Linked DNA regions of Homo sapiens. The protein of the gene in region 2 interacts with the protein of the main gene of each other region in a pairwise test. Each region holds a gene or a part of one and is shown on either strand. Other genes may lie near its edges. The genes, in order: CACNA1A and MATN2.

Region 1 (14,882 bases), on a different chromosome or scaffold from region 2:
AAGACATAATGTTGAACCGAAGAAACAAGAAACTGTAGAATATATACTATATGATTATTCCATTTATATAAAAGCCCAAAAGAAGCAAAGTAAAATTGTATTGGTTAGGAACGCATAATAAGGTAGTCAAACTTTTTTTAAAAAAGCAAGATATGAATACCATAAAGTCAGGTAGCGATTATTGCTGGAATAAGGGGCTGTGTAAGCGTGTTGGCAAAGGGGGTTCTGCAGAGGTGGTGATGTTCCATTTCTAGCCCTAGACTTGATTTCATGAGTGTTCATTTCAGACCAATTTCTTAACTCCGTACCTTTATGTTTTATGCATTTTTCTTTGTGCTTATTGAATTTCACCACACAAAAAGCAGAATGGGAAGTAATCAAAGTGGTTCTGGAGAGACGTGAGTATCAAGCAAACTATACCACCCAGAACCCCTATCCAGCCAACTAGGACCTGGTTAATTATTTCCTCCTGGGAGTTCAGACTTGTCACCTCTGGGGTCTCCAAGGTAGAATAAACCTTTAATTCCAACTTGCAGGAGTCCTTGTGATTTGAAACGTTCACAGAAGTAACCCCAAACCACTCTCTCCACTTTCAAAAATGGTCTTTTGCTAAACAGAGCAAATTTGTTTAGAGACTGACGAATCGCACCTCTAGACACAAATCCCCTTCTCTTTTCTGTCTTTTAAGTTTTTTTCCTGCCTCCATCCTGCCTTCTCCTTGCAAGATGCTGGGGAGCGTCCGGCTGTCTGCAACCGAAATGGAACGGGGTGGAAAACAGGCTTTCCTCCCAGGGGAGGAGGAAGCACCCCAATTCCCCCCTCCCTGCCTCCCAACCATGCGACGCTCCCCTCTCTCCCCCACAAACTCCGCTGAGCCCGGTACCCCCGCGCCTCCACGAGCCTCCACGATTGGTCGCGGGCCCTCATGTGTCGACACTCTGGGTGGGTCCTTCTACTGTTAAACTCATCAATTGCTCCCCTTTTCCGTTTGCTGGCCAGTGGTTCAGACCTTTGCGCCCATTTTTTTTTCCTCTTTACCTTCTTCTACCCGCAACCCTCCACACCAGTCTTATTTTAGCAAAACCTAGAGAAGGAGGAGGTGGAGGGATTTGGAGGGTGGAGAGGCATTGCCGCATCCAGGGGCAGCTATTGAGTGGCTAAGCGGAGGGCGCATACCTCTCTCTCTCTCTCTTTTCCCCCTGTTGGGAATTTTCAGGATTTCACTGCTGCAATTTAACCCCAAGATGAGGCACCATTGAGCGAAACGCTGTGCGCACATACACACTCACACTTCCTCCGGGAGCAGAAGAGGCAGCCGTTGGTGATTCAGGAAGAAAAAAAATTTTTTTTTTTTTTTTTAAACCTGGACCCTGCGGTGTGAAGACTCCTTAGGAACCCTCTGGAGCGTCTTACTCCCCTTCCCTCCTCTTTCCCTTCCCTTTCATCTTCTTTGTTTTTATTTTATTTTATTTTTGGAGCTACAGATCTTTCAGCATTTTTAAGGTCTAGGAACTCCAGCAAAACAGAAGGGCACTTAATTTTTTTTTTTTTTTTTTTTGCCCTCCCCACCCAGACCTGGGTTTCGTCTTTCTTTATTTTTAAATATATATATATTTTTTTATTTTTTATTTTTTATTTTTTTTTAATGGGCCGAGCGCACTCCTTTTGCAAGATGCCAGCCTGACCCGGACCTCGGAGGAATTTGAAGCTTCCACTGCGTCCCGGGGGGGGCGTCCTTTGCAAACCGTTCGCGTCTTAAAGGGGGTGTGCGTTGGGTGGATTTTTTTTTTTTAACTGTCTCTTTTTTTTTTTTTCCGGAGTGGGTGGACTGGGGATTGCCTGGATTCCTTCCTCGGTTATTTTTTGCCTCGCTTCTCTCTCCCCTCCCCCCTCCTCCCCGGGCCCCCGCGCCCCGCCCCCGCACCCTCCTCCCGCCCCTCCTTCTCCGGGGTCAGCCAGGAAGATGTCCCGAGCTGCTATCCCCGGCTCGGCCCGGGCAGCCGCCTTCTGAGCCCCCGACCCGAGGCGCCGAGCCGCCGCCGCCCGATGGGCTGGGCCGTGGAGCGTCTCCGCAGTCGTAGCTCCAGCCGCCGCGCTCCCAGCCCCGGCAGCCTCAGCATCAGCGGCGGCGGCGGCGGCGGCGGCGTCTTCCGCATCGTTCGCCGCAGCGTAACCCGGAGCCCTTTGCTCTTTGCAGAATGGCCCGCTTCGGAGACGAGATGCCGGCCCGCTACGGGGGAGGAGGCTCCGGGGCAGCCGCCGGGGTGGTCGTGGGCAGCGGAGGCGGGCGAGGAGCCGGGGGCAGCCGGCAGGGCGGGCAGCCCGGGGCGCAAAGGATGTACAAGCAGTCAATGGCGCAGAGAGCGCGGACCATGGCACTCTACAACCCCATCCCCGTCCGACAGAACTGCCTCACGGTTAACCGGTCTCTCTTCCTCTTCAGCGAAGACAACGTGGTGAGAAAATACGCCAAAAAGATCACCGAATGGCCATATCCTTTTGCCCGAACCCCAGCAGCAGCTGCGCCTCCCCCTCCTCCCTCCGCCTCCCCTCTTCCAGGCTGGGAGAGAGACCCGGGGGTTGATGGGAGGTGGGGAGGAGGGGGGTCTTCCAGGGGCTGGGAGAGGGGGCACCGGGAGGAGTGTGAAAGAATCTCTCCACCCCGAGCTGGGTTGAGCTACCCTGGAGGCTTGGGAATGGGTTTGTGGGGGGCTGGGGGGTGGGCAGCGGAGAGTGGATCCTTCCCAAGGACCGACTCTAGAATGAGATCTGGGGCCTGGGGTCGTGCAGGAGCCTTGGTGGGGGCTTTCGAGCCAAGTCCGGAGGGTTTGGAGTTCTACGGAGTGAGCTTGGAGCGGGCTCGGGCCTGGGCGCTTCTGGCCAGGGCAGGGGAACTATGGGGGCCTTGGTTGGGTTTTCTTGGCCGTCGCTCACTGGAGTCCACGCAGGGGAAGCTGGACAGCCTCTCCACTACTGCTTTCCCCAAGGTGGGGGGCCGCCGCACTTTTAGGGCAGGGCGCTTGGGGGCTCCCAGGGCTAAGAGCAAGAGGGAGTCCATGTGGCCTTCACACTGAGAAGCCAGCACTGGCCGAAGTGAGTACCCCAGGGTGGGCCGCTGTTCCTATCTGGAGAGGATAGTGATGGGCTGGGGGGCGCTTATGTTTCCCTCATGTGTGCAGGTCCCATTGCCTTTAACCGCTGATTGGGGAACCTCATCATCTTTGGGGGTGTCGAGAAAGAGATCCCACTTGCTTTATCTGGGCCCCTGGCCTGGGAAGACCTGATCTGGACACTTTCAGTAAGAAAGACAGGGCAACAGCAAATGAGGTGGTGGGTCCATTTTAGAGCACCATGTCCAGCTTTTCCTACCCCGAGTAGCCGAGAGGGAACACCAGGAGAATCAGCACCCATGTGGACATCTTAGGTAGGTAAATGCCTTTTAAATTTTTTTTTTTTTAATCAAAGATCCAGAGGAAAAAGGTGAAGCCCACATTTTCTTCTGTGGAGATGCTATCAAAATGCAGATCTTCTGTGTTTCTTTAAATCCCTGCCTGCTTGAAATAAACCTTGAGGAGGGCTTAACATCTATCGAGATGTAGGCAGGCAAGGGTGGGTAATTAGTCGGGCTTTCTAGCAGTTATCTAAGCATGACCCAGATTCCAGGAGGGGGGACACACCCTGCTGCCCAGGCTGGCTGGCCACTGTGCCATGCCCAGATGTGCCGCTTCTCCGCACAGTTCCAACCAGCTGCCCTCTGTGTAAAAATGAACGGGCTGGATGGGTCCCTGGGGCTCAGCGATGAGTCCCCTATCCCTTTTGTATGTGGTTTTGCAGTTATAGACTAAACGGGGCTGGGCCCTGTGTGGTCTCCGGGGGTTGCTGTTTGAGGAGCATGGCGGGTGGTAGAGGGACTCACTTCAGGGGGGTTCAAAATCGAGCCTGGCGCTTGGATCCTGGGTGCTGGGATTGCAACAGAGGGCACTGAGGTTTTGGAGTGTGTGAGTGGTCTACTTTGAGGGTGGGGAAAATTAAGAAGTTCAGCAGAGGTGCTTTTGAGGGGAGCATACCTCTAACTACGATGCCATCTCCGTTGGTGCCCAAAGCAGGTGCCAGGTCTTTGCTTCCTAAGTTTCAGACTCTTAAAGAGGCTGGTTCTTAAGGTTAGCAATTCCTCACCATCCCAGGCCCATTGAAGTGCTCAGGGGTGGCTTGATTACTCTGCCTATCAACAGAGTGAGGAGTGGGAGTGCCTTGCAGGAGGACAGGGTATTCATGGGTGCACACCCAGTTAGCTCCAGGAGTGAGAGGGCTTTGCTCGGCTGACAGGTTTCCTCATTGAAAATGGCTTTAGATCGCCTTCTGGAGCCTGGATTTGGAGACTTCTAAGAGGAAAGGAAGGAGGTGGGGAGCCCTTCTGCTGTGTCCTTAGCTTACCTCTGTCCAGCCTGAATCCTGCAGATTGGAGGGCTGTTGGGGGAGAGGGGGATTGCAGTGGCCCCTCGGAAGGGGGAATCGTGGGAGAGGGAGGCAGGTGAATTGCGAGTGTTGCTTGCCACTTCATCTATTCTCTGGCCAGCTCGCCCGGGGCTTTCTTGCTCTTATGATGAGTTTGTGCATTATGCTCTCTGCAGACTGTTTTTGTTCTCTTTGACCCGAGGTAACAAACACATTATACAGCCCTACTCTGGAAGGGAAAACTCCCCACCTCACAATCTGTCATCGAGCTGGGTCATCCAGGACTGAGCTTTCTCTGTCCTGGATGGAGCGGAGGGCGGTGGCGGGGTGGGTGGGAGGGTTGGAGATGAGAGGGGATGGACAGAGACCTGGGGAGGGAGGTAGTGAATAAAAGAATTCAGGCCAGTGTAAAGAGAAAGACACGTGGAATGTCAGAGTCACGATACCAGGGCAGAACATTCTACTTTTTAATCTAAATATTTCTGCCATTAAAAAAAAATGTTTCAGCATATCCTGAGAGTGAAAAAAAAAGTGTGTAGGTACTTAAATAAAGTCTAATATATGTACAGGCAAGTACATATATTCAGATGCATAGATTTTTACAAAATGAACACACCCACGTATCCAGCACCCAGGTCCCGATCAGTGCCCTGGAAGTCCCCCTCCCCATACCGCCTCCTAGTTGCTCCCCCAACAAGGGTACCGCTCACCTGACTTCTAAGGTTCATTTTGCCTCTTTTAAACATGTAAATGGAGTCACACAGTACGTTCTTTTGCCACTGGCTTCTTTTGCTCACATCTGTGTATGTGACTCTACTACAATCTATCCATTCTACTGTTGATGGGCATTTGTGTCATTTCTGTTTGTGCCACTGGGAACATTCTTGTGTCTTCTATTATTTTTTTCCCACAGTTCTCTTAGATAGGAGTGGAATCGCCCCTGCTACTTTTTGATGCATGTGTTGTGGGATGTGTATTTGGAAATGGTGTTGACTAAGGGTTGCAGGTCGATATGGAAAGCAGGTTCCTCCCTGTCTTGTTTAAGAGAAGTGAGTGAATGATCCATGAACTTGTCGGTATGCTCACAGGGCCTAAGAGTGCTACTTCCAAATGTAAATTCTGGCATGGTACACTGGTGAAGGATGCAGTCTTGCTTTCTCCACACTCGGGGCAATTTGTCACTATGATTTCTTCCTCTTTCATCCCTCAGTGGGTCAAACTTGAAGCCATCAATGACAATTAAGAATCCTCATTTATTTCATTTTTTCCCCTCTTCCTAAGTGAGGAAACCCAAATGGAAGTCTTTGATGTTCAAATTTACATTGCCGTGTTTTTCTCATGCCAGGCAGCAAGCCGTCTTGACCACACACCTTGGTTTCATGTTTTCATTGACTGGAATTGTGATTCAAATAGGGCCATGAGGGTCTCTGATGATTGCCGAAGAGCTCAGATCTGTCAGCTCAAAAAGGAGCATCTGTCAGCCTTCCTAGAGTTCCCTCCCCACTTAATGCCACTCACTCCTTCTACCAAGTGCCAAGGTGAATGTCATCTTTCCAGCCCTCCCTGTGCCACCAGGTCTCCCACTGAACATGATGTAGAAACTCAGGCCATCGGAGGAACACTGGAAGCAGGTCAGTGTATTATCACGCACAGTTGCCTGAATTACACGTAGAATTCCAGCTTTTCATCCGGTTTGCAGAAATCTTAACAAGACACCTAAAGTCACATTGACATCAGGTGACATCACTTTGACATCTGTGGACATTGGCTGATTGGCACTCCTCTCATTTTTTTTTTTTTTTTTTTTTTTAAGAAAAGCTCTCTAAAGAGAAACTTTCTGCATGAGAAGCGCTGGGAGACATGGGAGCAGGTTATCAGACTCTTGGCCTGTCCTGAGAGATAGAATGTTCTAGAAGGTACTGCCGTAGAGGGCAGGATGGTGTCACTTACGTGATCCTTGTACTAGACCGGCTTGGCTGGTATTTCCAGAGGAGCAAAATTCTGCGAAGTAAAATTTAGCACGGCTTTTCCAATGGGAGTATTTTCAAAAAGGGTGCAATTTCTTATCCACAATTCCCCAATCCAAAAAGCTCCAAAAACCAAAAGACGAGCTCATATAGAGGTAAAACCTAACCTGAACTGACTTCAGTTTGAAGTCTTAATTTACAGTTTTCATTCATTCTACTTGGTGTGCATTTGAGTATGTTTTGCAGCAGAAATGTTAGATGTGCTTGATGATGAGGTGCTGCTTCAGCTCCTGACTGTTAGGTCTGCATTGTAGTCCTGTCAAACTTTCAGGTGTATGGAAGTTGTCTTGTTAACAGGATGGTTCTGGTCCAGCAGGATTTGGGTGGGGTCTGGGATTCTGCTTTTCTAGCTAGCTTCTAGGGATTCCCCATGTGGTAAGTTCATGGGCTAGGGTTGGAGTATCCAGGTTAGATCATAGAGACATCTTGTTATCATTTTTCTTTTCCTTAAAAATCAGGTTTATAGGGGCCGGGTCTGGTGGTTCACGCCTATAATCCCAGCACTTTGGGAGGCTGAGGCCGGTGGATCATGAGGTCAGGAGTTCGAGACCAGCCTGGCCAACATGGTGAAACCCCGTCTCTACTAAAAATACAAAAATTAGCCAGGCGTGGTATTGTGCGTCTATAATCCCAGCTACTCGGGAGGCTGGCAGGAGAATCATTTGAACCTGGGAGGCAGAGGTTGCAGTGAGCCGAGATTGCACCACTGTACTTTTTTTTGAGACTCTGTCTCAAAAAAAAAATAGATTTATTGATGTATAATTTATTTGTAGCAAAATTCACCCTTTTGACATACTGGTCTGCAAGCTTTGACAAATGGATGTAGTTGTGGCCACCACCCAAATCAAGATATGGGACAGTTTCATCAACCCTAAAATACCCCCACAGTGCCCCTCTTGAGTCAGCACCCCACTTCTCCAGCCCCTTCAACCACTGATCTGTTCTCCATCCCTACAGCTTTGCCTTTTGCCGAAGGTCATATAAATGTAATTTCACAGTATATAGCCTTTTGAATGTGGATTCTTTTACTCAGACTTTGAGATTCATTCATGCTGTTGCCTGTGACAGTAGCGCCTTCCTTTTTGGTGTTGAGCAGGATTCCATGATATGGATGGACCAGAGTTTGCTTCCCAGCCGAAGGACATTGGGATGCTTCCAGTTTCAATGATTATGAATAGAGCTGCTATAAACATTGGCTTATGGGTTTTAGTGGGAACATTTCATTTCATACATTTCATTTCTCTTGGGTAAATTAACCCAGGAGTGAGATTGCTGAGTTGTGTGGTAGGTGTATGTTTAATTTTATAAGAGGCTCTCAAACTGTTTTCCTAAGTGGTTGTACCATTTTACATTCCCATCTTTGCAATGCGTCTAAAAGCCCTGAGTTCTGAATTCCAAAGCACGTCTGGCCTCGATGGCTTAGGATTAAGGATGTGGATCTATGGAAAGGAGTGGAAGTAATAGTGTTAAATCCCGGTCAGAGAAATAAGAAAGATTAAGGATGTCATTCAAAGCTATGTGCCTGCACTAGAGAGAGAGAAAGAAGGGGTTCTCTTGGGTGGGGTTCCACCCCTCCCTGGTAGTTCTACCATTCCCCAGGAAAAAGTCAAGCTCTGAGGCTGTGAGACCCATGATCTTTACCCTGTTCTTCACCACTGCAACCCCAGTGTGTGGGACAAAGCAGGCGTCCTATAAACGTTTGCTGAGCAAATGAGAAAAGGTACCTGTCTTCACCCATTAACTAAATTGTATAACATCTATCTGATCTACCCTTGTGCCAACGTTTTAGGATTTTGATGGGTTTTAGTTGCAGGGGGTTGAGAGACTGTCCATGAGATTATCAGACCAATGAAAGTTTCTGAAATGTTAGTGCTTGAGTAGATTGGATGCAGCGGCCCCTTGAGAATGAAGTCTTTCTTCAGGGACTTGGAGTGGGAGGCATCTGTTGGGTGCGTAGGGCTTATGCTTCCCCCTCCCTGTTTCCCCCCCAGTAGCAAGCACACATATACACTTTCTCAGCAATAAAAAGCACCGCCGGGAAGGTGGACTCCATCCAGAAATGATCAGAGCCTAAGAGCCGTGCAGTAACGCATTTCCGAGAATGCCAGCTCAGCTCCTGAGAAAAGGGCCGGATGGGATGGTGCCTGCTCTGAAAGAGGGCAGAGAGGAGAGGGAAAACACTCCGGACTCTGGGTCAGACTGGCCCAGGTTCACATTATTCACCAGCCATGTTATCTTGGGCACCAGAGCCTATTTCTTGACATGCATGATGAGGATATTCCTTCTAGTAGCATCTCCCTTGGAGGGCTCTCAGGAGATTAAATGGGGTCGTGCGTGAAAAATGGCCAGCACAGTCTCCAGCACAGAGAAAAACCCCAAAACGCCAGAGCCGTAATACTATGGAGTCATTTAGGTTCCAGTGTTCTTTTTTTGGAAACCGGCCAGAAAAGAGGCTTTCTGGGTGGGAATGGGAGCGAAGTGCCCCCCCCCACCACCCCCTGCGACTGGTCAGTGTGGATTGATTAACCTGATCGTGGCGCTCTTTAAAGCCACCTTTGGACATTTTGCATTCTCCGTTCTCTCTGGAAGCTTTCAGGGGAAAAAAAATTCGTGGCCACTTGACCCATTTTTCTATTCCCTTGAGTCTAAGGTAAAAATTAATTCTCTTTCCTCCTTTGGTCCCTCCCTCTCTCTGTGGGTGACAAGGTGAGGGAGTTTTAAAGTATATAATTAGCTTCCCTCTTCCCCTTTTGCACTCCCTGTCTCTTCCTTTGGGGCCGGTCGAGAGTGCAGCCCAGGATGGCCACCCCAGGTGTCCACTGCAAACTCCACAGAAAAACTTTGCTCAACTTTTGGTTTAGAATTTAGGTACCCCCCTCCCCTTCCAAACTTTGGTCTTCTTTCTCCTCACTCCCTAAAAAAATAGGAAAAACAAGGAACATTCCTGGCGAGGGAACCATGAGTGGGCACAGCAACTTAGGTTTCAAAAACCACTGGGCCTCAGTTCTTATCTGAGTAGGGTGACCCTTCAGCCAGGGTTGCCTGGGACTATCCTGGGTTTAGCATCTCTGGAAACTCACAGTCCTGGGCAAACTGGGACGCTGGTCACCCTAATGGTGAGTTCTTAACACCTGAGAGAGAAGAATGGTGCAAGAGATGGTGCCGTTGACCAAGAAAGGGGGAGAGTCAGTTACTTATTCCCTCTGAAAAGCCAAGACTTTTTATTGGAATGAATGCAGCTTTTAGAAGCCGTCTTTAAGGCAGCTAATACAAGAGAGATTCCAGCTATGAAGGGAAATGCCTGAGTTAAGTCCGGATCAAGTTTTGACATCTCGCTTCGGTCAGACACGGCTTTATCTGCCGTTCAGACTGGGAGCAGCCGTGAGTCTTCCTTAAAGGTGCCTGTTGCTCAGGCGGCACCTGCAGTTAGAAATTAGCAGCCTCCCACCCCCAGCCCCCAAATAACAGGATTCAAGAGTCCCCTCTCTGAAGCCATGAGGGAAACCCAACTTAGTCACCCACTTGCCAGTAAATAATATTCATGCTGTTAAGTTCTGTTCTCATTTTAGGCCTATGTGTAAAAAATATATGTAATTTTAAACTGATTTTTAAAGTATTTTCATACGAACAGCATTTGCAGGAGGGCGAAGTCTGGATGTTACCTTTTTGTAAAAGTGGATGGATTTGTCTTCAATGAGACTCTGGGGCAGACTTAAAACTTGGCCCGCAGTGGTGTTACATGGATTCTGATCTTCCAGAGTCTGTCACGTTCTTTTATCTCCATGATCTTTATTATCTTCTTTATTGAGAATGATGGGCATGGTGTGTGTGGGTGGGAGGGCTATGCTGACCATCACTGCAGTGAAATGTGTTCGTGGCATGTTGTGGCGTCTGCATAGGAATGTGTCTGTTTGATTAACAGCACAAGCAGTGGAGGCTGTAAGGAGGAAAAGAGGAGGGAAGGTGATATTGGATGGAGGGGAGACATATAGAGCTTGGGAACAGTCCACCCTGGCTGCAAATCTCAGCTCCAGCTCACAGTTGTGGAGCCTCAGTCTTCTCCTCTGTAAAACGGGGACAGTAGTCCTATGTCCGAGGAATTGTAAGAAGGTTAAAAGATACTGTACCCAGAAAGCACATGGCATATATAATCATCCTGTGAAGTAGCCAACTCAATGAATTTTATTTTATTTATTTTGAGTCAGAGTCTCACTCTGTCACCCAGGCTGGAGTGCAGTGGCATGATCATGGCTCACTATAGCCTCGACCTCCTAGGCTCAAGCGATCCTCCTGCCTTAGCCTCCCGAGAAGCTGGGACTATAGGCATGCACCACCGTACCCAGCTTTAACAACATAAATTTATATATATATATATATATATATATATATATATATATATATATATATATATATATATATTTTTTTTTTTTTTTTTTTTTTTTTTTTTTTTTTGAGATGGAGTTTCATTCTTGTTGCCCAGGCTGGAGTGCAATGGCGCGATCTCGGCTCACTGCAACCTCCGCCTCCCGGGTTCAAGCAGGACGATGGGCATTTGGGATGTTTCTAGTTTGGGGTGGGGGATTGTTTGTTTGTTTGCTGTTATGAACAATGCTGCTGTAAGGAATCAATAATTTTGAATGAATGAATTCGAGGTGTTAATTTTAGTCTGTGTACTTGGAAATCTAGCTTCACCTAGAATCAGCTGAGATTCATCAGCATTTATGGCAGGAGCTAAGACATTTCACAGCTTACTCATCATTTTCTCTAAGAGGCTGGGTCAACCGGTTAGCTCTTGGTCCTGCTTGTATTCTGAGAGTCAGAACCTGTGGTTTAGACACTGGCAATTGATATGGTTGTAGAGAAGCAGCATGGTTGAGTTGAGAGCATGGATTCTGGAGCTAGGTGGCTGGGGTTCAAATCCCAGCTCTACTAGTCACTGGCTGCGTGATCTTGGGCAAGTCACTTAAGTGTTCTGTGCTTCAGTTTCCCAGTCTGTCCCAGTGGTGATTCTAATAGCTCCATGGGGATCCTAATAGCTCCTATCTGGGAGGATTAAATGAGTTAATACATCTGATGTTTAGAGTGGTGCCTGACACTTAGGAAGCACTATATGTGTTTATACATGGAAGAGTGGATAGATGGATGGACTTATGTGGGTGGCCATATTTGGGCTTCTCTGATCCACTGCTGAGAATAGTGTGTGGCACACAGTAGGTGCTGCATAAGTGTTAATATTCTGCTCTTTCTTGCCAAGTCTCTCAACTCCCTTGATCTCTGTTATTTTTGGCGTCTGTGTTGTTAACCCATTCTTCTGAATGATCAGCTGAATCACTGTTGCTCCAATATATAAGCCAAGGAGAACACAATCACAAGGTCTCATTGATTGTCCATACTAGAATTCCATGATTCCTAGGCCCAAGTAGGATTTTCCCCACGTCTCAGCAATCCTTCTTCCATGTTTCTAATCTTTTTCTCTCATTTGTTATGCCCCATTGCCAGACTCTCCAATCTCCCCACAGCTTCCCCTTCCTCTAACTATACTGTCTCTAGTCTTACCTTCTCCCTAAGGGCACCGTCTTTGAAGACATCAAATACTTCAGAGCACCAAATATAGGTTAGCTTCTCTGAGGGCCTTACAAGGACATGGAGTGTTTGGGTCTTACACAAATTGGAATGGTCAGAAATGTTTAGAGACTTGAGTTGTCTTTGAAAGAGTTGTCAGAATGCAAATTTTTGACTTGTGGCCTGTTTCTGATCACAACGCAGTCTTTTAAGTTATGGATCATAGCTGGATGTTTGTGGTTTAGAGGGGATGGAGGCATCCTCTGCAGTTAGTGTTGGATGTCTGGGTGGATGGATGGATGGATGGATGGATGGATGGATGGATGGATGGATGGTTGAACAGATGCATGGATGAGTGGATGGATGGATGGATGGGATGAAGGAAGGAAGGAAGGATGGGTGATTGGAGGGTAGGTGGGTGGATAAGTAGATTGGTAGATGACTCGATGGGTGGGTGGACAAATGGATGGGTGAATGGATGACTGGATGGATGACTGGATGGATTGGTGTATGAGTGAATATATGGCTGGATGAATAAATAGGCAGATGACTAGACTGGATTGAGGGGTAAAAATATGGATGACTGGATGGGTGGATGAGTGGATGATAGATGGTTGAATGGGTGGGTGGATGGGTGGATGTTGGATATAAGGGTGTATGGTAGGGTAGCTGTCTATGTGTGGGTCTCCCTGATATTTGGTGTTCTGTTTGACTTGGGAATGACCAAGTCTCTCCGCTTACCACCTTATTTGTACCTTTTCCAGTATCAAGTGAATTTTGCACACTTTTGTAAAAATCAATAAGATTGTATGTTTAGGACTTTGGGAGGCCGAGGCAGGCAGATCACAAGGTCAGGAGATAGAGACCATCCTGGCTAACAGGGTGAAGCCCCATCTCTACTAAAAATACAAAAAATTAGCCAGGCGTGGTGGCGGGCACCTGTAGTCCCAGCTACCTGGGAGGCTGAGGCAGGAGAATGGCATGAACCCGGGAGGTGGAGCTTGCAGTGAGCCAAGATCATGCCACTGCACTCCAGCTTGGGCGACAGAACGAGACTCCATCTCAAAATAAATAAATAAATAAATATTATATGCTTAGGTTTTACCTATGTAATTAGAAAGCTCCTTGAGGGTAGGGGACAGTGATTTGCCTTCCTCACATCCCCCCAAAGTTCCTGCACTATATCATGCATAAGTATTTAATTGAGTAATGGTGAGGAAAGTAAACAGTGTTATTGAACAAAGATTATTAAAATTCTGGAAACACCTGGTTTTGTTTCAGCACTGGGACTGAAAGTGGAATTCCTTGGATTTTGCTCCATTGGTGGATAGGATAGCATGTGGTGGTGGACTGGTAGACTCTTTCTCTTCCAAGCAGATTGGGTAAATGCCCCAGATTCTTACCCACTAGTCAGAGATTACAGATTACTGATTGATATGGTTTTTCTCTGTGTCCCCACCCAAATCTCATCTCAAATTGTAATACCCACATGTCATGGGAGGGACCTGGTGAAGGTGACTGGATCATGGGGGTGATTTCCCCCATGCTGTTCTTGTGATAGTGAGTTCTCATGAGATCTGATGGTTTTAAACTTGTGTGGGCCTCTTTCCTCTCTCTCCTCTCCTGCTGCCATGTAAGACGTGCCTTGCTTTCCCTTTGCCTTCTGCCATGATTTGTAAGTTTCCTGAGGCGTCCCCAGCCATGCAGAACTGTGAGTCAATTGAACCTCTTTTCTTTATAAATTACTTTTATAGCAGTGTGAAAACGGACTAACACACTGATGTAGCAAGGTCCTTTAAGGCCCCATGTGATCTGGTCCCTGTTTTGTCTTTGATCTCATCTCTTTCATTGTCTACCTTCCTTTCATTGTCTATTCTGTCTCAGCCCTGCTGACCATTTTACTCACACCCATGTCATTTGCATTACATGACATTCCTTCTGTTCAGCATAAGCTATTTCCTCTGCCTGCATCACTGTTTCTCCAGGTCTCCCCATGGCTAACTCCTTCTCTTCATTTAGGTCTCAGCCCAAAAGTTACCTCCTCCAAGAGGCCTATCCTTTTCATTTACTGAACATCTCATGTACAAAAAAGAATATAAAATATATGTATACTCTCTCATCCACAAAAAAATCTCTGAAGACATTTTAATGTATTTCATCCCATACCTTTTTATGCATGTAAACTTTTAGGAACACATTTCCATGCCACTAGGTATCCTTGAAAAAATAAGGGCCACCATGTATAGTTGCACAGGTTGTGCACTGCACAAAGATAGCATGTCACATATCTTAAGTATCATGGAGCTTGTATGTCTACTATTTCAGTACCCCAGCTGATAAAAGCTTAAGTATCTTGTTCTAGCAAGATGAAGCTATTATGACAATTTTTGACAGAGAAAGGGGTGTTTTGTTTAAGTTCACAATCAGAGAAATGGGTGTCTTGTTTAATTTCACAACCAGAGAAAGGGGTGTCTTGTTTAAATTCATACAGTGGTGCTGTATGGGTTGGTGGCAACCCCAGAAAAGACTGTTGTTAATATCTGATAATGTTCCACTTTATACGTGTATTATATTCATGTAACAATCTCTGGCTGTTTGTTTTGCCATTATAAATAACAGTGCAGTAAACATCTTTGTGTGTGAATCTCTGTCCAAGGTTCTGATAGTTTTCTGAATGAAATTCCTGTCTATATATGGCACTCCAAGCCCATAATTGAAACTCTGCTGTTACCACTTTCTTTGAATCTGTAGAAGGAATTTTGAGAACAGGTGACTGGTATATTCAGGATGTTGATGACAAGGAACAGAGAAAGAACAGTTAAATGGTTTGGAATTTTT
Region 2 (15,280 bases):
AAGTTCGAGACCAGCCTGACTAACATGGTGAAACCCCATCTCTACTAAAAATAGAAAAATTAGCCAGGCATGGTGGCTCGCGCCTGTAATCCCAGCTGCTCAGGAGGCTGAGGCAGGAGAATCGCTTGAACCCAGGAGCCAGAGGTTGCAGTAAGCTGAGATCACACCACTGCACTCCAGCCTGGGCAACAGAGCAAGACTCTGTCTCAAAAAAAAAAAAGTAGAAGAGGTCAGGGCATGGTGGCTCATGCCTGTAATCCCAGCACTTTGGGAAACCAAGGCAGGAGGATTGCTTGAGCCCAGGAGTCGAAGATCAGCCGGGCAAGATAGAGAGACCCTGTCTCTACAAAAAATTAAAATTAAAAAAAAATTTAGCCAGACATGGTGGCACAATCCTTGTAGTCCCAGCTACTTGGGAGCCTAAATAAGAGGGTCACTTAAACCCGGGAGACTGAGGTTTCAGTGAGCCGTGATCGCACCACTGCATGATAGCCCGGGCGACAGAGCAAAACCTTGTCTCAAACAAAAAAAAAAAAAGAAGAAGAAGAAGAAGAGGAAGGCAGAAGAGAGATCTGAGGTGTGGCAGTGAGAGAAGGATGCAGCCTGACATTGCTGGCTTTGAAGATGGAAGCAAACCGAGCAATGCGTGCAGCCTCTGGAAGTTGGAAAAGGCAGGGGAACAAATTCTCCCTGCTGACACCTGGATTTTTAGCCCCATGAGAACCATTTCAGAATTGTGGCCTCCAGAACTGTAAGATAATAAATCTGTGTTTTAAGTCACTAAGTTTGTGCTAACTTGTTACAGCAGCAATAGGAAACTAGTACAGACACCGTCTGGGAATCTCAGGGAGGTCAAACGTCACTAGAGTGATTTGCTTCACAGAGATCTTGCTCTGGACATGAGGGCATTTTTTCTATTTCACTAGAAATGGAAGAGGAGAAGCAGCTAGAAAAGTCAACAAATGCTGTTGATGGGGCAACAGTGACTGTTCTAAGGGCCAAAGTTGAGGGTTACTGGCCAGGCGTGGTGCCTCACGCCTATAATCTCAGTACTTTGAGAGGCTGAGGCAAGAGGATCACTTGAACTCAGGAGTTCGAGACCAGCCTGGACAACATGGCGAGACCCTGTCTCTGTAAAAAAAAAGTTTTTACAAAAATCTAAAAAAGAAACAAATTTGAGGGTTACTCAAGGGGAGGGAGAAAGCCCAAAAAGGACAGGAAGGAGCCATTTCTGAACTGAGTTTCAAGAAGCATTTGATCCATAGCCTTGACCCCTCTGGTCTTGAGCTTTTGGTCTTTAAGACATGTGAAAACAGCCAAGCATGGTGGCTCACACCTGTAAACTCAGCACTTTGGGAGGCTGAGTCAGGTGGATCATGAGGTCAAGAGTTTGAGACCAGCCTGGCCAACATGGTGAAACCCTGTCTCTACTAAACATACAAAAATTAGCAGGGCATGGTGTTGCAACTTGGGAGGCTGAGGTAGGAGGATCACCTGAACCTGGGAGGCAGAGGTTGCAGTGAGCAGAGATTGTGCCACTGCACTCTAGCCTGGGCAACACAGAGAAACTGTCTGGGAAAAAAAAAAAAAAGAAAAAAAGAGATGTGAAAACAAACTCACCTAACTGGGAGGGTACAGGGAGAAGCCCTAAACAGAAGTGAGCTAAAACTCTTTGATTTAGATCATTTTCTCTAATACTCTAATATTTCTTTCTTTTTTCTAAATAGTTTTTCTTACCATCATGCCCAATCTAATACTCTAATATTTCTGGCAGATAGAATAATATGTCAAAGATGTCTATGGCCTAATCCCCAGACTGTGTTGCCTTACATGGCAAAAGGGACTTTGGGCCGGGTGCGGTTGGCTCACGCATGTGATCCCAGGACTTTGGGAGGACAAAGTGGGCAGATCACCTAAGGTTAGGAGTTCGAAACCAGCGTGGCCAACACGGTGAAACCCCATCTCTACTAAAAATATAAAAAATTAGCCAGGTGTGGTAGCTCATGGCTGTAATCCCATCTATTTGGGAGGCTGAAGCAGGAGAACACTTGAACCTGGGAGGCGGAGGCTGCAGTGAGCCAAGATCACGCCACTGCACTCTAGCGTGGGCGATAGAACGAGACTCTGTCTTGAAAAAAAAAAACGGGGGGACTTTGGAGATGTGATTAACTTAGGAATTATGAGATGCAGTGATTAGCCCAGATTTTCTAGGTATGGTTTTGTAAGAGGGAGACACGAGAGTCAGGATGGGGAGAAGGGTTGGAAGATGCTGTTACTGGCTTTGAGGATGGAAGAAGGAACCAAGAGCCAAGAAATGCAGTCAGGTTTTAGAAGTCAGAAAATGAAAGACATTTTCCCAAGAGCCTACAAAAGGAACCACAGAGCCCTGCTGACACCTTGATTTTAGCTCTACAAAACCCATTTAAGAGTTCTGAACTTCAGAACTGCAAGATAACATCTTAGGGTTGTTTTAAGCCACTATGTTTGTGAAATTTGTTATAGCAGCAATAGGCAACTAATACAACAACATAAAATAACTACAGGGTATCCCCATGGGCAGTGAGCCCCACTTTCCATAAGTAGATAAAGGTTCCTCTGACAGTACTTTTAGAATAACTTTCCAAAAATGTTAGCTGATCCACCTGCTCAGCCGCTGATTTTTACATGCAGGTATTTTGTGAAATTTTCCATTTCAATTGACTCACTTTGAGTACTTTACACCCTTCACACACTGTTGGATAAATTCACATTAATTATTTCATTTAACCCTTACAACAACCCTATGACATAGTATCACGCCCATTTGACAGATGATATAAACCAAGGCTCAGACAATAATAGTAAGTATAGCTAACAAATATTGAGCATTTATTCTGAGCTAGGCACTGAACACCTGTTAACTAATTTAATTCTCCCAAAAAATCCAGTCTTCATTTACAGATGAAGAAACAGATGTCAGGCACAGAGAGTCTAAGTAACTTTCCAAAATCTTTGCAGGTATGAGGGGCTAGAACTGCAACCCAGGTCTTTCGGGTGCCAAGAGCAGTGTGCTTTGGGTTGTACCCCAACTCCATCTCATCCATGTCAAAGCCACTGTCATAGTCATTAACACCAATTACTGGCAACAGCCCAGCCCTGCCATTCCATCTGAGCCCCCTTCAGGCAGTATTGGCTGTCTGCCGAGCCACATGGCAGGGTTCAAGGATGGCCTCATGGGCTGAAGCTCCAAGTGGCAAGTGGCCCCTTGGAAGGACCTCCCTGGCACCATTCACTAGCAACAGCAATGACATTCCCCATTCTCCCCTTGGCATATGCTCAGCCTCCCTCTTTCCCTGGCCCTCCTGAGTTATCTTGCCATATGCTTTAAACAGGGGAGTCCTCCATAGCTTCCCTAGAAGACGGGGAATCCCTGGAAGGGACGCTCCTGCAGGTGCTACAGATCAGAGGGCAGTGAGTGCCAGGGGCAGCACTAGAGGCTCTCTGCCAACTTGACTGGTCTTAAACCACTCACCTCTCCTACTGCTTGCCCAGCCTCATACCCAACACCTTGCTCAGGCCAGCGTTAGACCTGTCACACCCTCTTCGGCCTGCTTTTCCTGAGGCCTAAGCCGGTCTCTCCCCCTTTTAGTCTCCCCACCTCACTCCTTGCCCTCTCTTAGGTGCCAGTCAGAACTGTTTCTAAATAAACTGTAGAATTATTTTTCCAGAACCTCCAATGGCTCTCTTATTTCAAAGAGCAAACATCTCTCCTTTTCTTTAAATCTCAGGCCACACTTTTAACTACCTTTTGCTAAACAAGGACATATGGCACTCGCTGATAAGAGCTTAGGGCATGACAGCTGCTCGAGGGTGTTTCAGATTTGGACTCTGCTCTGACACCTCCAACAAGCAAGCTTAGGCCTTGGTGGCCCTGGGTTGCCTGGGAACAAGAAACCCCAGAGCCCCGATTTATAGAAGACAGTGTCCTGGTAACTCGGGGGCCTGAGATTGAATTCTATTGGCAGAAATAAAAGTAAAAAGTGTGGACAGATAGGAAAATGCAAGGTGAAGAGCCATAAGTATCTCATTCTCCACAGAGGATTCTAAGTGCCAAGTTTCAGGGACTGAGAGGAAACATTCCAGGTCATAAACCCATGTTGGTATTTTGACATGGTTTTATGAGGTTGGCCCTTTGGGAGCAAGCAGGGAGAACTGCGCCCGTGTGGACTCCTGCATGGAACTACCAGTTGCATACACGTGGCTTATCTGCCACCCTCACGTACCCATGGAGAGCCTCTCTTTCTGAACTGGGGAAGAGGTACATTCACTGCTCATAGCAGCTCCTTGCTATTTCTGCAAAGACAAGCCATGGAACTCACCTAATCTTAGAATGCTCCTGGAAATGTTCTAAGGACTTTACTTGCCATATCTTTTTTTTTTTCTTTTGAGACGGAGTTTAGCTCTTGTTGCCCAGGCTGGAGTGCAATGGCACCATCTCCGCTCACTGCAATCTCTGCCTCCTGGGTTCAACCGATTCTCCTGCCTCAACCTCCCGAGTAGCTGGGATTACAGGCATGCGCCACCAAGTCCGGCTAATTTTGTATTTTTAGTAGAGACGGGGTTTCTCCATGTTGGTCAGGCTGGTCTCGAACTCCCGACCTCAGGTGATCCGCCCGCCCCGGCTTCCCAAAGTGCTGGGATGACAGCCCTGAGCCACCGTGCCCGGCCGCCATATCTCATTTAATCCTCACAGTTCTGTGGGTATTACCATCCTCATTAGACAGATGAGGAAACTGAGGCATACTTGGGTACCTTCAAGTTATCAACCCTGTAAACTTCACAGCTGGGGTTGAAACCCAAGCAGGCTGACCCCAGTCTCTGCTCTCGACCACGGGTCCCTGAAGTCTCTTGACTGCCCCATTCCTTAAAGGCCGATTTTAAGTGTGCTTGGTGCAGATGCATTGTGGCTTCCTGATTTATGACAAATTGAAACTTGGTCAATTGGGTTTGTTCAGGGTGGGCGCGAGTGTCCCTGAGGAGAGCACTTTCCTGTGCCCCCAGTCCTGGAGACCCTACCAGGGACAGTCCCCATTTCTCTGTCCTCTCCCCAAACGGCTCCAAATTGTTCTGGGGTTTCTAGCAACTACCACAAAATGCCTTCCCCTTTCTCTCCCTCTTCCACAATATAGGGAAGCTGGAGGTTTAGCTGCCATAGAGACCCAAGAACAAAATCCAGATGACACGGGCATGAAAATACCAGGTTCCGAAGAGGGAAGGGGGAGCCATCGGCTGTCCGTGGAATAGGAATCACCCTGCATACCCGCTCAACAGGTCTCCCTTTCCCTGGGTCGCGGTGGCCGGGGTCTGGGCGTCCCCGCTGCGTGCCACAGCGCCCCCACGGGGCACTCCGGGGCGGCTGCAGCGCGGCTTGTCCTGCGCAGGGAGCGCGCCCAGCTCTCCCGGCCGAGGGGTCGGGCAGCGCCGCCCTCCCTCTCCCCCTGTCCTCGGAGGGGTCGAAGGCGCCGGGGCCCCGGGGCGCTGGGGGCTGCAGTGCGGGCCTGGGGAGGGCGCCTGCGCGTCGGGCAGCCCAGGCTCGGTATTCTGTCGGTGGGTCGGTCCGCCTGCACTTCGAGGCCGCCCGGCCGCGCAGAGCCGGGGGAAAGCGCGCCGCGCTCACCTGCAGCCGCCGGCGCCTGGGAAGCGAGGCAGGGGCGCAGCCACCCGGGTCTTCCTCGTCGGCCTCTTCGCCTCGCCGAGGGCCGCGGCTCTCCTCGGGGATCGCTCGTGGGAGGCGAGGACGGAGCCCCAGCTTCTGCCTCTGCCTCTGTCTCCGCCGCCGCCGCTTGCTCCAAGTCCCATCCCAGAGCGCTCCCTTCGCTCGCTGGCTGCCTGGGAGGCGCTGGGCAAGGGCGGGCGGCTGGGGAGGCGGTGCCGCGGCGGGGGTGGGGAGCGGGCCGGGCGGAAGGAGGGGTGTCCTCTTTGGGGATGGGGAAGGCGCGGAGAGGGAGCGGCGGCGAGGGCGGCCCCACCCTGTGGGCAGCCCCGGGAGCTGGGCACTCTGGCGGCGCGCCCTGCCTGCTGCCACCTGGCTCCACTCCGTCCGTGCCTGAGCCCAGGCGGGCATCAGACTCCAGGGGTCCGGAGCCGCAGGCACGGAACACAGGCAGCTTTAGGGGCCTGTCGGGTTGGGAGTGCGGGGAGGGGTCTTCTGGGGGAAAGGAGACATGGCAGGAATCTTACATCTAGAACTTGGGGTCATGACCTGCGGGACGCACCCACTGACGCGGGGATGGAGAAAAAAGTGGTGAGAATTGGGCTAATTGATGACAAGCGCCAAGAGCTGTCTTGCCAGTGCCCAGAGCACCCCACCAGTGCCAGTTCATATTAACAGAGCGTCCACTGGCTGGGGACCAGGCCCCGGGATGGGGAGGAGGTAAAGATGCCAGGATGGAGAGGAGACAAAATTCCTACCCCGAGGGAGCAGGGAAAGTCTAGTTCAGACAAGACTTTTGAAATTATGAGCAGAGACATTTGCAACTTTGCAGAATGGAGGAACCTCACCTTGGATGTCCCCATGGAGCCTTGGAGGGATGCAGAAGACAGGATTGGCCAGCGACAGTCAAAGTGGCCGGCACCCCCCTCTACCAGCTCCCCAGTTCCTGGAGGCTGGGGTGAGTGGATGTATAACAGACCAGGACATCTCCTATAAAGCTCCAAAATTCTGTTCCCAAACCACTAGCCAACGCACCCAGTTCAGGTTTTGTGTTTTTGTTTGTTTGTTTGTTTTTTGAGACGGAGTCGCCCAGGCTGGAGTGCAGTGGCGCAATCTTGGCTTACTGCAAGCTCTGCCTCCCGGATTCACGCCATTCTCCTGCCTCAGAGTAGCTGGGACTACAGGCTCCCGCCACCACGGCCGGCTAATTTTTTTTGTATTTTCAGTAGAGACGGGGTTTCACCGTGTTAGCCAGGATGGTGTCGATCTCCTGACCTCGTGATCCGCCCGCCTCGGCCTCCCAAAGTGCTGGGATTACAGGCGTGAGCCACTGCGCCCGGCCCCAGTTCAGGTTTTAACAAGCTACCAGCAGAGGCAGCAGCACTAACTAGTTTCAAAACCTCTGGATGTGCCACAGTCTGATAATTTGGTGCTTTGGGCGGACTTTGTTTTGTAATTAACCATCATTCCTATTTGATGATAGAGTTGATTTCTGAAATATGAATAAACGCCAAAATCAATTCTTCAGAAAAGCTCCAGGAGGGGTAATTAAAATTCCAGCCATGAAGCAAGGGGTTAACATACTCGAGCCATCAGGCAAGTCAATGATACCTTAATACCAAGAAAGAATTGTGGATTCCTGTTCCTTTACCCAGTACCTTAGGCCCACTGGGCACTCTTGGCTGCCTGCACTGATCACAAATAGTTTTTTTGTTATGTCTTTGGGAGGAGGTAGGTGGAGGTCAGAAAGCAGAGGAAAGTCTTCAGGAAATGTTTGGTCTCTGAAGTCTTGGATCCCATAGAAGAAAATTCTTCCTGAGTCTGGGCCAGTGAAAATCCCCTAGGAACTTGGGAAGTTGAGCTACAGTTTATGGAAACTTAAATTTAAAATGTGTTGACTTATTCCAAGACACCAGTGTGATCCAGTAATTTACCAGGAAAACAATAACAATCCCCAAACCCTTCCAAATTGTAAGGAAATTGTAATTTAGTAACTGATTCCAGTGACTCTGGTGTATGCCAATTAAAATGGGTGTTTTCCCCCCAGGGAGTTCTATTGGAATTCTTCAGAATAGTTAATCTATGTACAAATTACACTTGGGGCCAAGTCAAATAGGTTAAATGAGTTGTTCTACCTTGTGGGATGATCTTCAGGTCTGCCAGAAAAAAATGAAGGAAAAGCAAGTTCAATGTCCTGAAATATAAAGGCAGAACAAACAATGAAATGATTTCTGGGTTACCTTCAGGATGAATTGCAAGTTGATAATTAAGACTATAGATTAGGAAAAGGCCAAAATTGCCTTTTCTGCTAGAGGTCCTGCCATGTGCTAGATGTACAGAGAACCTTATTCAGAAGTGTGGGTTTAAGATTTTTAGTTCTGGGACTGGGCGATGGCTCACACCTGTAATCCCAGCACTTTGGGAGGCTGAGGCGAACTGATCACTTGAGGTCAGGAGTTCTAGACCAGCCTGGTCAACATGGTGAAACCCCGTCTCTACTAAAAATACAAAAGGTAGCCGGGTGTGGTAGTGGGCGCCTATAATCCCAGCTACTCAGGAGGCTATAATCCCAGCAACTCAGGAGAATCGCTTGAACCTGGGAGGCGGAGGTTGCAGTGAGCTGAGATTGTGCCACTGCACTCCAGCCTGGGCAACAAAACTAGAGTCCATCTCAAAAAATAAAAATTAAGAATAATAATAATAATAATAATACAAAAATTATCTGGGTGTAGTGGCATACGCCTGTAATCTCAGCTACTCGGGAGCCTGAGGCTGGAGAATCACTTAAACATGGGAGGCAGAAGTCGCAATGAGCCGAGGTTGCACCACTGCACTCCAGACTGGGTGACAGAGTGAGACTCTGTCCCAGAAAGAAAAAAAACAGATTTTCAGTTCTTATGTGGGCACTCATGTAAGCAGACAAAAATGAGGTATGTATTATCTGAGAACTCCTAAGAGCTCACAAGTTAACTGGAATTGGTATCTGTTTAAACTAATCACAACCTGAGTAGCTATACTTGGGATCAACTCTCAGTTCTCGATCTCCACGTAGTCTATTGTGGAGTAAGGATTTGGGTCAGGAGAGTCATTTGACCCAGGCCTCACACTCGTGAACAGCCTCGAATATAGACTTTAAACATAAGCATCCCTTTGCTCCTTGTAAACATTAGAACTTTTTGTTTTGCATTAGAATCCTTCTTACTTGAGACCTAGCTATCTGGCCTAGAGGGCAGATTGAAATGAGACTGTCAAATCCAAAGGGGACCAGAGTACAGTATAAGGAAACTGAAGAAGAAACAGGTTGCCTCACGGACCTATAAACCTAAAATAAAGCTCTACTGAATGCATGAGGAGACATGTAAAATTGCAATGTCATCTCACGTGCACTGTTTCCCTAGGTGACAGACAGTGTTTGAGTCCTATGTAAACTATTAGAGCTCCTCCCTGTCTCCCTCAAGTAGAAGGCCAGGAGAGGAAACATCTTCATATCCGGCCAGCTGCCCATTTGTTGGAGCTGGAGATGCAGGGTTAAGGGAATGTTCCAAGGTAGTGGATGAGCTTGGACTCCAGCCCAGGGAGGGGAACCCTGTAGGCAGGGCAGAGCTCCCTTTGGGATACCCCATCTACATGGACAGTTGGGTCCATGTCCAGAGGGTTCCTTTGAGGACAGGCTGACTGATGGCACCATTGTCCCAGGTGACATAATTTCTTTTTTTTCTTTTTGGCATATGAACATTTATTACTACAGTGTTTTCACCATTAAAATTTATGATCTTGGTCTTTCCTTCTTGCCTTTGTATAGGGCCAAAAGAAAGACACAGGCTACTTTGACAACCTGAAAGCGAACTCCAGAAATATCACCAACAGCATGACCTTTTTGACCAAATCCAGCAACCAGAGCTTTATGGTTTTCCACAATAAGGTTCAAGCAACCATCACTGAATACAAAGGCTGTGATTTTCTTGCCATCCTTGATCCACTGGACCCTGACACACTTCCTAATGGCAGAATTTGGCTTTTTGGCTTCAACTCCTACTTTTCCCAGCACAATTCCTTTTGCATGAGAAGCACCTCCAAAAGGGTTGGCCTTCAGGGCTGTGCCCAAATGGGCTTTCTTGTACTGTTTATCATGCCACTTCTGATCTTGTTGGTGACTACAGAGACTCCTAGCAGTATGAGGTCCACGACACTTGCCCATCCTGCAGTGCTACGGGCCTGAGCAAAAGAGAGAAGCAGCTGTCCCAGGTGAAGTAATTTCTAAATAAACATATCCCATCTTGGAAAGACAGGATGAAAGTGATCAGGAAAAAAACTACAGCAAGTTGAAAATTTGTTCAAGAAAACAATACTCATTTCAAAGGGGACTCAAATGTTTTTATGTGATTTTGACTTGGACCATGAGCTCCTGAGGACAGGGACTGGGCCTTTTGCTTATTTATAGATCTTGCCCTATGCCATGCTGTAGAAGGGACTGGGTTACACCGGCTCTAACCAGGATTTTAGAGCCTTGTAGTTTTGTGGAATCAGATTGATGCAGCTTCCTATCAAGGATGAGATAAGGCCTGGCACAGTGGCTCATGCCTGTCATGTCAGCCCTTTGGGAGACCTAGGCAGGAGGATCACTTGAGCGCAGGAGTTTGAGACCAGCCTGAGCAACACAGTGAGACCCCATCTCTGCAAAAAATTTAATAATTAGCTGGATTAATTTTTTAAAAATTTAAAAATTAGCCTCCCAGCAATTTGGGAGGCTGAGATGGGAGGATCACTTGAGCTGGGGAGGTCGAGGCTGCCATGAGCTGTGATTGCACCACTGCACTCCAGACTCCAGCCTAAGCAACAGAGCAAGACCCCGTCTCAGATTTTAAAAGAGAGATAATAGGCAGTTGCAGTTGGCTGTAGTCCCAGCTACTTGAGAAGCTGAGACAGGAGGATCCCTTGAGCCCAGGAGTGTGAGCCTGGCTTGGGCAACACAGCAAGACCCCATCTCTACAAAAAAAAAAAAAAAAATTAATGTAAAGAATGAGATAATAAAGTGGGGAGCCTTAATGCATAGGCAATAGTGAGCACAAATATGATTTGTTTTCTTGGATACTGACAAGGCTGAAACACTGCCTGTCTACCTGCAGACTAGGTTTCACTTTGGAAATGGAGGATGGACCTGCTATTTATGGAAGCATCGCTCAGCAACACAGATTGCTGCTGCTTTCATTCCTAAACCTAGAAATTGGCACAAAGTGGTCGGCTATTAGGAGCCGATAGCCTCATCCTTGTGACACTCAACTAACTACCTTCTCTCAAGGATATTAATGAGTCTATGTCTGCATGGGATGCCTGGTGTTAAATCAGTTTGCCAGACACTTGGGCAATGTCTATGTGCATCTATTCTATAAAATCCCCCAGCCCGCTGGCAGAGCTCAATAAATGGGGATTCAAGAATAACAAAAATAGGCCGAGTGTGGTGGCTCACGCCTGTAATCCCAGTACTTTAGGAGGCCGAGGTGGGTGAATCACTTGAGGTCAGGAGTTCGAGACCAGCCTGGCCAACATGGTAAAACCCTGTCTCTATTAACAATACAAAATTAGCCTGGCGTGGCGGCACAAGCCAGCAGTCCCAGCTACTCAGGAGGCTGAGGCAGGAGAATCACTTGAGCCTGGAAGGCAGAGGTTGCAATGAGTCAAGATCGTGTCATTGCACTCCAACCTGGGTGACCGAGTGAGACTCCATCTCAAAATAAAGAAAAAAAAGAAAAGAAATTCAGCAAATGAAATGCAAACTCTATACTCTAAAAGCTGCAAACATTATTGAAAGAAATTACAGAAGATCTAAACAAATGGAAAGACATTCCATATTCATGGATTGGAAGACTTAATAAAATGGCAGTATCCCCAAATTGATCTACAGATTCAACATAATTCCTACTGAAATCACAGAGGCTTCTTTGCAGAAACTGACAGGTTGATGCTAATAGCCAAAATAATCTTGAAAGAAAAAGAACAAAGTCTGAAGGCCGGGTGCAGTGACTCATACCTGTAATCTCAGTGCTTTGGAAGGTTGAGGTGGAAGGATTGCTTGAGGCCAGGAGTTAGAGACCAGCCTGGGCAGTATAACAAGACTCCTGTCTCTATAAAACATTAAAAAAAAAATTAACCAGGCATGGTGGCGCATGTCTGTAATCCCAGTTACTCAGAGAGGCTGAGGTGGGAGGATCACTTGAGCCAAGGAGTTTGAGGCTGCCGTGAGCCGTGATCGTGCCACTCTCCCCTGGGTGACAGTGTGAGACAGTATCTGAAGAAAAAAAAAATTCATTTCCACTGCAGAAATTGCCTGCAGTGGGAATTTCTGTGCTTGAGTCTATGGTACCTGCCACAGGGGAATTTACATTGCTTTTACTATTGGAATTTTGTGATCTTCTTATAAAGGATTAAAGACAAACAAGGTTTATCATGTATGGTCTTACAGGGATTTCATTTAAATCTGAAGTGACCAGGAAGTAGGTGAACAGGTCACTATCTTTAAGTTGCATAGTAGCTGTTGAGAATTCCCCCCCATTTATCCAAGGTCTCAGGGTTCCACCAAGGTCTTAGATTTGGTCATTTATTGCTTTAACAACGATTTACTAGGAAAGGGAAAAGAGAAAGCTCCTAAGAGGAGACACATCTAGCAATTTAATTTTGTATTCAGATTCCTACTGAATTAAGCTCACGTGAATGGGACTTGATCACAAGAATAGTAAGAACTAAGAATGCTGGTTTCCTTTTGATTTCAAATTTAGGCAGACTATTAGGTAGCCTCTCATCTTAGCGGGACTTTAATCTTTCTTCGGAAAGCAATCCTTTTATTACTGTGTTGCTGTTATCACCTTTACAACTTTCTTCTAAAAGTCGACACTCCCCTAAAAGCCCCCCAGCCCAGTACACACTACTCCAGCTGTGGCTTTGGCAGGGTTGCTGGAGCAGTGACCTTCCCGCGGTCTCCTTGCATCATCTATAGGAATGAATGAATTCTTTTCTTTTTCTTTTTTTTTTTTTTTTGCTTTTCTTTTTTCTTTTCTTTTTTTTTTTTTTTTTCTGAGACAGGGTCTCACTCTGCTGTCCAGGCTAGAGGGCAGTGGTATTATGATGACTCACTGCAGCGTCAACCTTTCAGGCTCAGGTGATTCTCCCACCTCAGCCACCCAAGTAGCTGGGACCACAAGCATGTGCCACCACGACTGGCTAATTTTTGTATTTTTAGTAGAGACAGGGTTTTGCCATGTTGGCCAGGCTGGTCTCGAACTCCTGGCCTCAAATGATCTGCCCACCTCGGCCTCCCAAAGTGCTGGGATCATAGGCGTGAGCCACCACGCCCGGTGGAATGGAATTTTTTTCTAGTAGGCTCTTCTGAATTGTCTCTATGGAACTTGAGCTCCACTGAGTTGCTTTTAAAAATTTGTTGCAGTCACTGGGATGGGATTACAGCTGGCTTTAATTCTCCTTATGTGCTTATTTTATTTTATTCTAGTAAATATGTTTTGAGTTCCTTCTATCTGCCAGACATGTGCCATACACGAACAGAGCAATAAGTAACACATAGACTCTCTGTGAGTTTATAATCTACTGGGGGACTATCGACAAGAAAAGCAGTAACCATAGAGCGGAAGATATACCTTGATTGGGGATGCTGAGGATGCCATGGAAGAACATAAAATGAATGCCACCCAGGGCCAGGCGCAGCGGCTCACGCCTGTAATCCCAGCACTTTGGGAGGCCAAGGGGGTTGGATCACTTGAGGCCAGGAGTTCAAGACCAGCCTGGCCAACATGGCAAAACCCCATCTCTACTAAAAATTCAAAAATTAGCTGGGCATGGTGGTGCACACCTGTGGTCCCAGCTACTCAGGAGGCTGAGGTGGGAGGATCACTTGAACCGGGGAGGCGGAGGTTGCAGTGAGCTGAGATCGCGCCACTGCACTCCAACCTGGGCGACAGAGCGAGAGACTCCATCTCAAAAAGAAAAAAAAAAAAAAAAAATGCCACTCAGATTGGTAGGCCATAGGCTTCTAGAAGGAAGTCATTTTCAGATGGAGACCAAAAGGATGTTATTGGCTTTATTTTCTGTTCCTTCTTGCAATCCATTACTTATGTAATTTTATTGAAACCTATGAGTTTGCAATGTGTCTTGATGCCCAGCTCATACCTGGATTTTGTATTAAGATGTTTAAGGAAGTTTAACTCTCAGGGACACAGATGATACAATGCATTAACTTCAACAGGGGAAAAAAAAAAAAGCTTACACTCCCATGGGAATTGACTACTCTTTTCTGTCTCTATTGGATAGGTGTGAAAATAGACAGCGATACTGGCTTTCTGGGGCAGGGGCAGGGACAATTCCTCAAAAGGAAATTGCTCCCTTAAAAACAACCACTCTAAAAGGCCCACCTCTGTTGATCCCTCTTCCTGCCTGAATACATTCTTTATAACAATGAAAAGCTGATATTTGCAGAGCATTTTCCAGTCTAATTAAATGGGAAACTGACAGCTTTACTTATGTTAACACGAACTTCAAGTTGAAGATCCACCCCAAGTTTACAGTTTACACAGCTTTGCACAACCTGCTTTCCTTCTTGGGATGTATTAATTCAAATTAGTAGAAATTGATGATTGTTAAGAAGCAAGAAGTTATATGTACAGAATTCTGAAATTCTAGATGTCTCAAAGAAATGCATTACCTACTTTGATGTATTCAATCTGCATTCAAGTCCTCTGCCACTTACTAGGTGACTTTGGCCCAGTTAATTACCTCTGAAACCCTCGGTTTCCTCACCTGTAAAATGGGGATAGAGTTAATAATATATCTAAGCATGTCTGCATACAGGAAGGGCTCAGTAAATGGTAAATGTTATGCTACCTCATAAAAGGGTAGAAGCCACAGGGAAAGAAAGAGGGGCGAAGTGAAGAGGACCTGTGATCTTAAGTCAGGAAGACGGGAACACAACGGAGACACATTAAATCAACAGGAGGAGATCTGGGGAAAAGGGAGGACAATTTTCCATTTTGGACACCATGAATATGAAATGTCAACAGGTCGTCAAGATAGAGAAGACTGGGATTTAGAGCTGCTATTATTATTTACTGAAGGCAACTAAATATAGGAAAGGTAAATTTAATAAAGACCTACAGTTAAAAACAAGTCAAGGAACACCCTGTGAAGTAAAATAGAGAAAAAGAGTAATTTGAAATACATTCCTTGGCCAGGTATGGTGGCTCATGCCTATAATCCCAACAGGCCGAGGCAGAGGATCACTTGAGCCAAGGAGTTCAAGACCAGCCTGGGCAATTTAGTGAGATCCTGTCTCTGAATTAAAAAAAAAAAAAAAAGAGAAAAGAAAAGAAATACATTCCTTTAGTTAAAATGAATAAAATGGATATCACACAAAGGCCACCACACTGGGTGCAAGGGGCGTCCCTGCCACATGAGACAACACGGTCCTTTATGCTGTTGCTGGTCACAGACAGCAGACCCATTGCTCCTTGTCTTCCCAGAGCCAGGGCTTTCCTTAGGCACAGGTGAAGACTCATCTGCCCCTGAGTAGGCCTAGCTTGGACATCC

Evidence for each region.
Region 1: the proteins of MATN2 (region 2) and CACNA1A interact in a two-hybrid assay, tested with the Homo sapiens proteins (one study listed by BioGRID and IntAct).

The regions. Positions count from the first base shown.
Region 1 is NC_000019.10:13,493,541-13,508,422, reverse strand, and holds the start of CACNA1A (voltage-dependent P/Q-type calcium channel subunit alpha-1A), read left to right. Parts: upstream 1-1,943; 5' UTR 1,944-2,198; coding exon 2,199-2,491; intron 2,492-14,882.
Region 2 is NC_000008.11:97,859,664-97,874,943, reverse strand, and holds the start of MATN2 (matrilin-2 isoform a precursor), read right to left. Parts: upstream 5,881-15,280; 5' UTR 5,657-5,880; intron 1-5,656.